2 separate regions of the Homo sapiens genome follow, and region 2 is linked to region 1. Evidence: fine-mapped expression QTL. A gene starts in region 1. The other region holds a variant in brackets. All regions are shown on one strand. Distances are from middle to middle.

Region 1 (4,260 bases):
ACAAGTTAAGTTGCCCAAAGTAATAAACAACAAGAGTAAAGTCTAGAACAGCGTTCAGCTGACTATGGCTCCATAGGCCTGGCATCTGCTCCTGTACATAAGGTTTTATTGAAACACAGCCACACCTATTCACTTATATATTTGTCTATAGCAGCCTTCTGTGCTACAATGGCAGAGCTGAATAATTGTGACCTAAAATCCTTACTACTTCACCCTTAAAGGAAAGGTTTGCTGATCCCTAGGCTAGAACTCAGGTTGTGTGCATCATATGGCTCTTCAACAAAGCCTGGCATTCCCACAGCTCTTCCCAGGAGCATAGAGTCTCCTACGAGACTACAACTAGGCATATGGTGGGTGTGCAACCTCCACTATCCAACACAATACTATCAAATGCCAAACATCTGCACCACACTTTCAGCTGACAAAGAAAGGTCTTTGACATACATAATCTCATATTATCCCTAAAAAAACCTCACAAAGCCATTCTTCTTCTTTTAATTCTTATCACTTTTTGGATAATAACTTGCCCAAGGGCTAACACAGAGAACAAGCAGCAGGAGCAAGGACTCCATCCCAGGTCTCCTGGCTTTAAGAACTGTGCTCGGCCGGGCGCGGTGGCTCACGCCTGTAATCCCAGCACTTTGGGAGGCCGAGGCAGGCGGATCACGAGGTCAGGAGATCGAGACCATCCCGGCTAAAACGGTGAAACCCCGTCTCTACTAAAAATACAAAAAATTAGCCGGGCGTAGTGGCGGGCGCCTGTAGTCCCAGCTACTTGGGAGGCTGAGGCAGGAGAATGGCGTGAACCCGGGAGGCGGAGCTTGCAGTGAGCCGAGATCCTGCCACTGCACTCCAGCCTGGGCGACAGAGGGAGACTCCGTCTCAAAAAAAAAAAAAAAAAAAAAAAAGAACTGTGCTCATCACCACGCCACAGCTGCCTCTTAGATGTAACAACTTATAGGCCTCCTTTACACTTTACAAAGTACCTTCTTATTCCTAAACCCCTCTGGGCCTTGTAACATTTTGTTGAGGGCAACATGGTAGGAGCATCCGGCCCACTTTTCAGAAAAGGCTCAGAAAGGGGAAGCAACTTGCCCAAGGTCCCACAGCTAGTTTTATATGTTTAGGCCTAGACTGAACCCTTGCTTTTCTGAACCCAAAGCACATGCTCTTTATATTGCAGTCCACGACCTCTCTGCAACTAGTCTCATGGTTTTGAAGACAGGAAAACAAGTTCACAGAGGTGACATTTGCCCCAGGTCACACAGCTAGTAAGTGGATCTTAAACGGACGCCTGTCTGACCCCAAAGTCCAGGCAGTTTCCACTGTACCCGCACGAATGCTCTTTTATCCACCCCTCTCTCCGATGTGGCACCTGAGAACCTAGCTCAGAGAAATCAAGTCACTTTCCCAGAGTATCAGAAAGGAAATGTATCAGAGTTGCCTGGAACACAGACGTGTTTATTGTATTAACATCCAGGCCCTTTTCTTTGTACTAATCAGCCTCTGCTGTCATTCCATTTTATGGATGAGGCAGCTGAGGCTCAGAAAGGTGAAATCCCTTTCCCAGGGCTACAAAGAAAGAAGGTGACCCAGCCACGTCTACAGCACAGTAGTGATGGACCACAAAGCCTACTCGGGGAGGCCGAGACCCCACCCGCCCCAGTCCGGGGACCCTACCTCGGCGTCGAACATCTGGTCCAGCGAGGGGCTGCTTCGCACTAGCCCGTCCACCAGCGCCAGCCACAGGCCCAGCGAGCCGTAATACACGGTCTGCATGAGGACGATCTGCGACAGGATCAGCAGCGGGTCCCACACGTAGCTGCGGAACTGACCCGCCATGCCCTGCAGGGACACGAGCCGGGCCTCAGCCAGCGGCCTGTCTCCATGGCAACGTCGCCCCGCCCGGGAGGAGGGACTGGAACCAAGGGGTGAGCCCATTCCAAGAGTCAGGGGGAAGGCGGGGCAGACAGACCCATTCTCAGAGTGAGGGGAAATCCAGCCCATTCCGCCTGCGCGGCCCCCGCCCGTACACGAGCTCCTCTGGGGTCTACTCACCAGTGACAGACTCGACGATCGAAGTGTCTGAGCGTGGCCCGGCCTCACCGGCGGGCTCCCAAAACAGCGCTGACAGACAGGACCATGGAGGAGAGGCGCTGCCGGCCTAGAGAGGCAAAGCTCCAGCGACCACGGCGGCAGGAGCGGCTGCGTAGGAAAGAAACGTTTCCGGGGAAAGCAGCGGAGGGGCGGGGCTGAGGTTGCGCAGGCGTAGTGGGTGCAACCTCTGCCTGAACCTCCTGAACCAGGTACAAGCAGCCGGATAGCGAACTGAGCACATGCGCAGAAGGAAGAGTGAAGGCAAACGGAAGAGAGGAACGAAGGCCGCAGAGCTTGCGCGCCCTCTAGAGGGGAATTCTTTTTTTAAAGGAAGGCGGCTAGGGGAGAGGCAAGTGGGGTGGCTTAGGACGCGGTAATGATGTTTGGGAATTAACGAGGTGATAAACTGTGTCGTTATTTTCAGCCTAAATTCTCAATGTTTTCTCCTAGTTAGAGTCTGATAACTTGAAGTGGACCTGCAAGCTCCTCCACGTAGGAGTTTGCCAATGTTCCCGCTGTACAGATAGTTAAGCTAAGGGCCAGAGAAGGAAAGCAACATACTGTTTCAACGACACAGTTAGTAGCAAAGTAAGTATTAAAATTCAAGTGTTGGTCGGGCGCGGTGGCTCACGCCTGTAATCCCAGCACTTTGGGAGGCTGAGGTGGGCGGATTACCTGAGGTCGGTGTTTCGAGACCAGCCTGACCAACATGGAGAAACCCCGTCTCTGCTAAAAATACAAAATTAGCGGGGCGTGGTGGCGCACGCCTGTAGTCCTAGCTACTCGGGAGGCTGAGCCAGGAGAATTGCTTGAACCCGGGAGGCAGAGGTTGCAGTGAGCCGAGATCACGCCATTGCACTCCAGCCTGGGCAACAAGAGCAAAACTCCGTCTCTAAATAAATAAATAAATAAATAAATAAATAAATAAAATTCAAGTGTTTCCTCAACACTACAACATTGATTTCGCACCTACTCGGTGGCAGGAAGGCTAGAACATGTATATATAAGACAGCCCCTGCCCTGAGACACAGATGAACTATATTAGAAGGCAGAGTAGTGGGTGTTTTAAAATGTGGGTGTCCAGTGGAAAAAGGCACAGGTTCTGAAGTCGCACATAGGAGTAAATCCTGACCCTCTCTGCTGCCATGACTGTTTTATCTATCTTCCAAATCCGAATAGTGGACAGTCAGTAAATATTTGCTGAATGAGTTAAGAACAGAAAAAGCAAGAGCAAATCGATAACTCACTTATTCCTACTCCAGCAGACGAAAACCCATCAACTTCATTGATCCTAGGTTCCCCCTCTCTGAAGTGGAAAGACGGGAAGTAAGTTGTTCCAGGAAAAGAATTTGGGTTTTAGGGCCAGCTATGCCACCCAGTGTGACCAGCAAGCCACTTCCTTCTTTAAACCTCAGCTTCCCTGTTTATGAAATGAGGAGTTGGACATGATTAACGTTTTCCACCATTTAATCTACCTTCCAGTAATTATTTTCTCATTAAAAAAAAAACTTAGGCTGGGCACAGTGGCTCATGCCTGTAATCCCAGCACTTTGGGAGGCTGAGGCGGGCAGATCACAAGGTCAGGAGTTCAAGACCATCCTGGCTAACATGGTGAAACCCCATCTCTATTAAAAATACAGAAAATTAGCCGGGCCTGGTGGCAGGCGCATGTAGTCCCAGCTACTCGGGAGGCTGAGACAGGAGAATGGCGTGAACCTGGGAGGCGAAGCTTGCAGTGAGCCGAGATTGCGCCACTGCAGTCCAGCCTGGGCGACAGAGCGAGACTCCGTCTCAAAAAAAAAAAAAAAAAAACGTATCAAAGAGCCATGTAACTGCCAATCAGAATTTCTGAACAGCTTGTGGTAGCCGTGTTATCACCTTGAGCTGATACAATTCCAGACAAAAGTAAAGAAACTTGAGACTTTATTGAGAGTGTGCGATTGTCCTTATCATTTGGAAATACCCTGAACAGTTCCCCTGGACTCCAGTTGGGGAGTTATTAAGGCCCAAAGATTTCTTAGGTGCTTTCCAGCTCAACCATTCTTTTAGGCACCTCAATTCAGTCCAACAAATATGTATTCAAATTCCTCTAGTTCACTGATTATGCACATGATCTAGTGTTTCTGAGAAAACATCTGTTTCTTAAGTGCCTACATGATCTTG
Region 2 (4,260 bases), 34 kb before region 1:
TCCAGAAAAGATTAAATGCCAATATACAAACACAACAAAGAAGCACATGCAAACACAACCTAATATATCATATTCAAATTGCTGAAAACCAAAGATAAAGAGAAAATATTGAAGGCATCTAGAGGAAAAAGGCACACTCCCTACAGAGGAACAAAGAATTACAGAAGACTTCTCATCAGAAATTATATAACCAGAAGATAATAGAGTCATATCTTTAAAATGCTGAAAGACAAAAAACTGCCAATCCAGAATTCTATACCTAGCAAATACATCTTTCAAACATGAAGGAAATACACTTTTTCAGATCAAAAAAAAAAAAAGAGAGAGAGAAAATTCATTACCAGTGGACGTTCTGTAAGCAGAAGAAATATGATACCTGAGAGAAACTTGGATCTACATAAAGAAATGATGATCTCTGGAAACAGATAGAATAAAGGTAAATATAAGAGACATTGTTTCTCATTTTTACTCACTTTAAAAGGTAACTGCTTTACTAAAGCAATGCATTGTGGCCTCATAGCATATATAAAAGTGAAATGTATGACAATAACAACAGTAAAAATGAGGAGATGGAGGAATGGGAAATATGCTGTTAAAGGGTCCTTATGATATATAAGAAGTGGTATAACATTATTTGAAGATAGACTGATTAAAGATATAGTAAATTCAATAGCAACCACTAAAAAAATTTTTTTAGAGAGGTGTAAGTAACAAGCCAATAATAGAAAATGGAATCATAAAAATGCTGGAATAGGTAACTATGTGAGATGATGGATATGTTCGTTTGCTTCACTATAGTAATCACTTTACTATATCTATGTATTCCATAACATCATGTTGTATACCTTAAACATATACAATAAAATTTATTTTTTAAAATGACTGTTGAACATGAAAACAAGTACATATAATAATTTTTTCTAATGTTGGGAGGCTTCCTCCCTAGGCCACTTGTGTCCAACGTGTCTTGCTGAGTATGTCAAGATCACAAGGCCCAGACCTCTCTTTCACCTGGGTCCTTGTTCAGGATTGTTAGTACAGCTAGAGTTTTGAGAGGTGAGATCATTTCTCAGACCAAGGCAGGCTTGCTTACTGCTTGCTATAAAAATGTCCTGGGACCAGGCGTGGTGGCTCATGCTTGTAATCCCAGCACTTTGAGAGGCTGAGGCAGGAGGATCACTTGAGTCCAGGAATTCGAGAGCAGCCTAAGCAACACAGTGAGACCCTGTCTCAAATAAATTAATTAATTAATAAAATAAAATAAAATAAAAAGTGCTGGGCCTAGGTCCCTCAGCTACAATGCAAACCCACTGTGTGAATACCATGCATCTGGGCTCACTGCATCATCTGTTGAATGTAGGACCAGGGGAACCAATACAACTATGCTGATGTTCACACTGTTTGTTGTGCTATGAATAATAAACTATTTCAATCAGATGCAATACATCTTGTCTACTTGCAGCACCCATGAGATTGGGAGTTTTCCTTTTCGAAACATAATCCAAATCAAGGAAGAAAAAAGAAAAAAAGCACAGATGAAAGATTAGAAAACAAATAACAAGGTGATAGATTTTAATCCAGTGTATCAGTAAAAAGACAATCAATTAAAAGACAAATTAGCAGATTGGGAGCAAAGTAAGAGGCAATAATATGTTGTCCACAAGACCCACTTTAAATATAAAGAAATATATGGGTTAAAAGTAAAAGGATGTGTAGAGGAATTGGATCCCTAAAAAAAAAATGAATGGAGTAAGACACACCATACAAACATGAAACCAAGCAAGTTGGAGTGACAGTATTAATATCAGACAAAGTAGATTTAAGAAGGACTATTACCAGGGAGGAAAAGTGGTATTATTTAATAATAAAAGGTTCAATTCACCAAGAAGACTTAACAGTCATAAGAGTGTATATACTAACAACAGAGCTTCAAAAATATATGAAGTAAAAACCAGTAGACCTGAAATAAGAAACAGAAAAAATCTATATTGCACCTAGATAATTCAACCCTTCTCTCTCAATAATCAATAAAATAAGTACACCAAAAAAGCAAGGATATAGAAAACCTTAACACTATCATTAATTTCTCCTAATTATATTCATGACACTTTACCCACCAACAGCAGAATAAACATTCTTTTCAACTGCACATACAACATTCA[A/G]TGAGAGATTCATCATATTCTGGGCAACAAAAACAATCCTCAACAAATTTAGAAGAATTTAAATTATGTTGTATGACCATAACAGAATTAAATAGAAATAATAACAGAAAGATAACTGAAAAACAATCCCAATACTTCAAAATAAAACATGAGTCAAAGATGAAGTCCAAGGGATATTAGAAAATACATGGCTGGGTACACTGGCTCAGGCCTGTAATCCTAGCACTTTGGGAGGCTGAGGCAGGTGGATCGCTTGACCTTGAATTTGAGACCAGCCTGGGCAACATGACAAAACCTCGTCTCTACAAAAAATATAAAAATTAGCTGGGCATGGTGGCTCATGCCTGTATTCCCAGCTATTTGGAGGCCTGAGGTAGGAGGATAACTTGATCCTGGGAAGTGGAGGTTGCAGTGAGCTGAGATGCCACCACCGCACTCCAGCCTGGGCAACTGAGCAAGACCCTGTCTCAAAAAAAAAAAAAAAAAAAAAAAAAGTGTTGAACCAGGCACAGGAGCTTATGCCTGTAGTCTCAGCATTTTGGGAGACTAGCTGGGAGGATCGCTTGAGCCCACAAGTTTGAGACCAGCCTGGGCAACATTGGCAGAAACTTCATCTCTACAAAATATACAAAAATTAGCCAGGCATGGTGGTGCATGCCTGTAGTCCCAGCTACTCATGAGGCTGAGGCAAGAAAATCGCTTGAGCCTGGGAGGTCAAGGCTGCAGTGAACCGAGATCACACCACGGCACTGTAGCCCAGGTAACAGAGTGAAACCCCATCTCAAAAAAATAATAAAATAGGCCGGGTGTGGTGGCTCACGCCTGTAATCTCAGCACTTTGGGAGGCCGAGGCGGGCGGATCACTTGAGGTCAGGAGTTCAAGACCAGCCTGGCCAACATGGTGAAACCCCGTCTCTACTAAAAATACAAAAATTAGCTGGGCGTGGTGGTGGGTGCCTCTAATCCCAGCTACTTGGGAGGCTGAGGCACAAGAATCACTTGAATCCAGGAGGCGGAGGTTGCAGTGAGCCTAGATCATGCCACTGCATTCCAGCCTGGGTGATAGAGCGAGACTCAGTCGAAGAAGAAGAAGAAGAAAGAAGAAGAGGAGGAGGAAGACGAAGAAAAAAGAAGAGAGAAGAAGAAAAAAGAAAGAAGAAGAAACAGCCAGGTGCAGTGGCTCATGCCTGTAATTCCAACACTTTGGGAGGCTGAGATGGGTGGATCACTTGAGGTCAGAAGTTCGAGACCAGCCTGGCCAACATGGTGAAACCCCGTCTCTACTAAAAATACCAAAATCAGCCAGACATGGTAGCATGCATCTGTAATCCCAGCTACTTGGGAGGCTGATGCAGGAGAATCACTTGAACTTGGGAGGCGGAGTTTGCAGTGAGCCGAGATCACGCCATTGTACTCCAGCCTGGGCAACGGAGCGAGACTCTAAAACAAAAAAAAGGAAAAAGAAAAAAAGAAAAACATATTGGATGGAATAAAATGGAAATTTTTGTGGCCACAGTCAGCCACAAAACACCTCCCAATGTTCCTTACCACCTATCATGTACATCCGGGCAGTCCTCTCCTACACTGTACCAAGGTTATGTCACGGGATCCTTTGGGTGTCACTTGGTCAGTGCAAAACCTCTGTGGCTGGTGGTGCCTCTGCTGGAGTTTTGCTTGTGCCCACTCGTTCTGCCCACTCACCTGGCAGGCTGTGCTTGGCTAGTGCAGCCCGGATCCCATGCCTACCAAGGGTAAGCCAGGCATGGAGTGGTGGGGGGGTGTGTGAGCAAGCGTGAGGTCCAGTCACCACACAGAGCCAGGCACACAAGCTGCCGCAGCCACGTGAGCAGCTCCAGGCACTGGCACAGGCACCAGCTCCATGCAAGGCTCTGGCTGGACCAGACCTACCCCAAGCGACCTCTGCTATAGGCACCAGCGTCTGGACCAGGGGAACGCAGTGGCACCTGAAAGCTCTGAGACACCAGGAACTGCAGAGCCCCAAAGAGGGTGTTACAGCATGTCACAGCCCTGCCTCAGGGAGCCCCGAGATCTGGGCCCCCAGAAGGGCTGCAGCTCTTCTCTCTTTCTCATCACCGGC

Direction of the effects. Positions count from the first base shown, and alleles are read on the strand shown. Sizes are in standard deviations (SD) of each study's normalised expression.
For the expression in monocytes after interferon gamma of the gene that starts at base 2,218 in region 1, allele G in region 2 goes with a higher level than allele A (large effect, 0.84 SD a copy in Fairfax 2014).

The links. PIP is the estimated chance that this variant, and not a neighbour inherited with it, causes the effect. A credible set is the group of variants that fine-mapping cannot tell apart.
Region 2: its variant is the best candidate, but not a certain one, in a credible set for the expression of SYS1 in monocytes after interferon gamma (Fairfax 2014, PIP 0.59).

The regions. Positions count from the first base shown.
Region 1 is chr20:45,361,114-45,365,373 of GRCh38, reverse strand. SYS1 (SYS1 golgi trafficking protein) reads right to left here and starts at 2,218. Exons shown (of 4, transcript NM_033542.4): 1 at 2,059-2,218; 2 at 1,681-1,845. The coding sequence starts at 1,842. It overlaps SYS1-DBNDD2 (SYS1-DBNDD2 readthrough (NMD candidate)), which reads right to left and starts at 2,205. Exons shown (of 6, transcript NR_003189.2): 1 at 2,059-2,205; 2 at 1,681-1,845. It overlaps LOC124904914 (a long non-coding RNA gene), which reads left to right and starts at 2,006. Exons shown (of 2, transcript XR_007067609.1): 1 at 2,006-2,306; 2 at 2,548-3,018. RefSeq lists an enhancer at 2,049-2,488.
Region 2 is chr20:45,394,955-45,399,214 of GRCh38, reverse strand. All of the region lies in intron 3 of SYS1-DBNDD2 (SYS1-DBNDD2 readthrough (NMD candidate)), which reads right to left. LOC107985404 (a long non-coding RNA gene) reads left to right here. Exons shown (of 5, transcript XR_007067608.1): 4 at 1-436. Among named protein-coding and RNA genes, the nearest start is that of DBNDD2, 11 kb to the left of the region's middle. The variant A/G (reference allele first, on the strand shown) is at 2,163.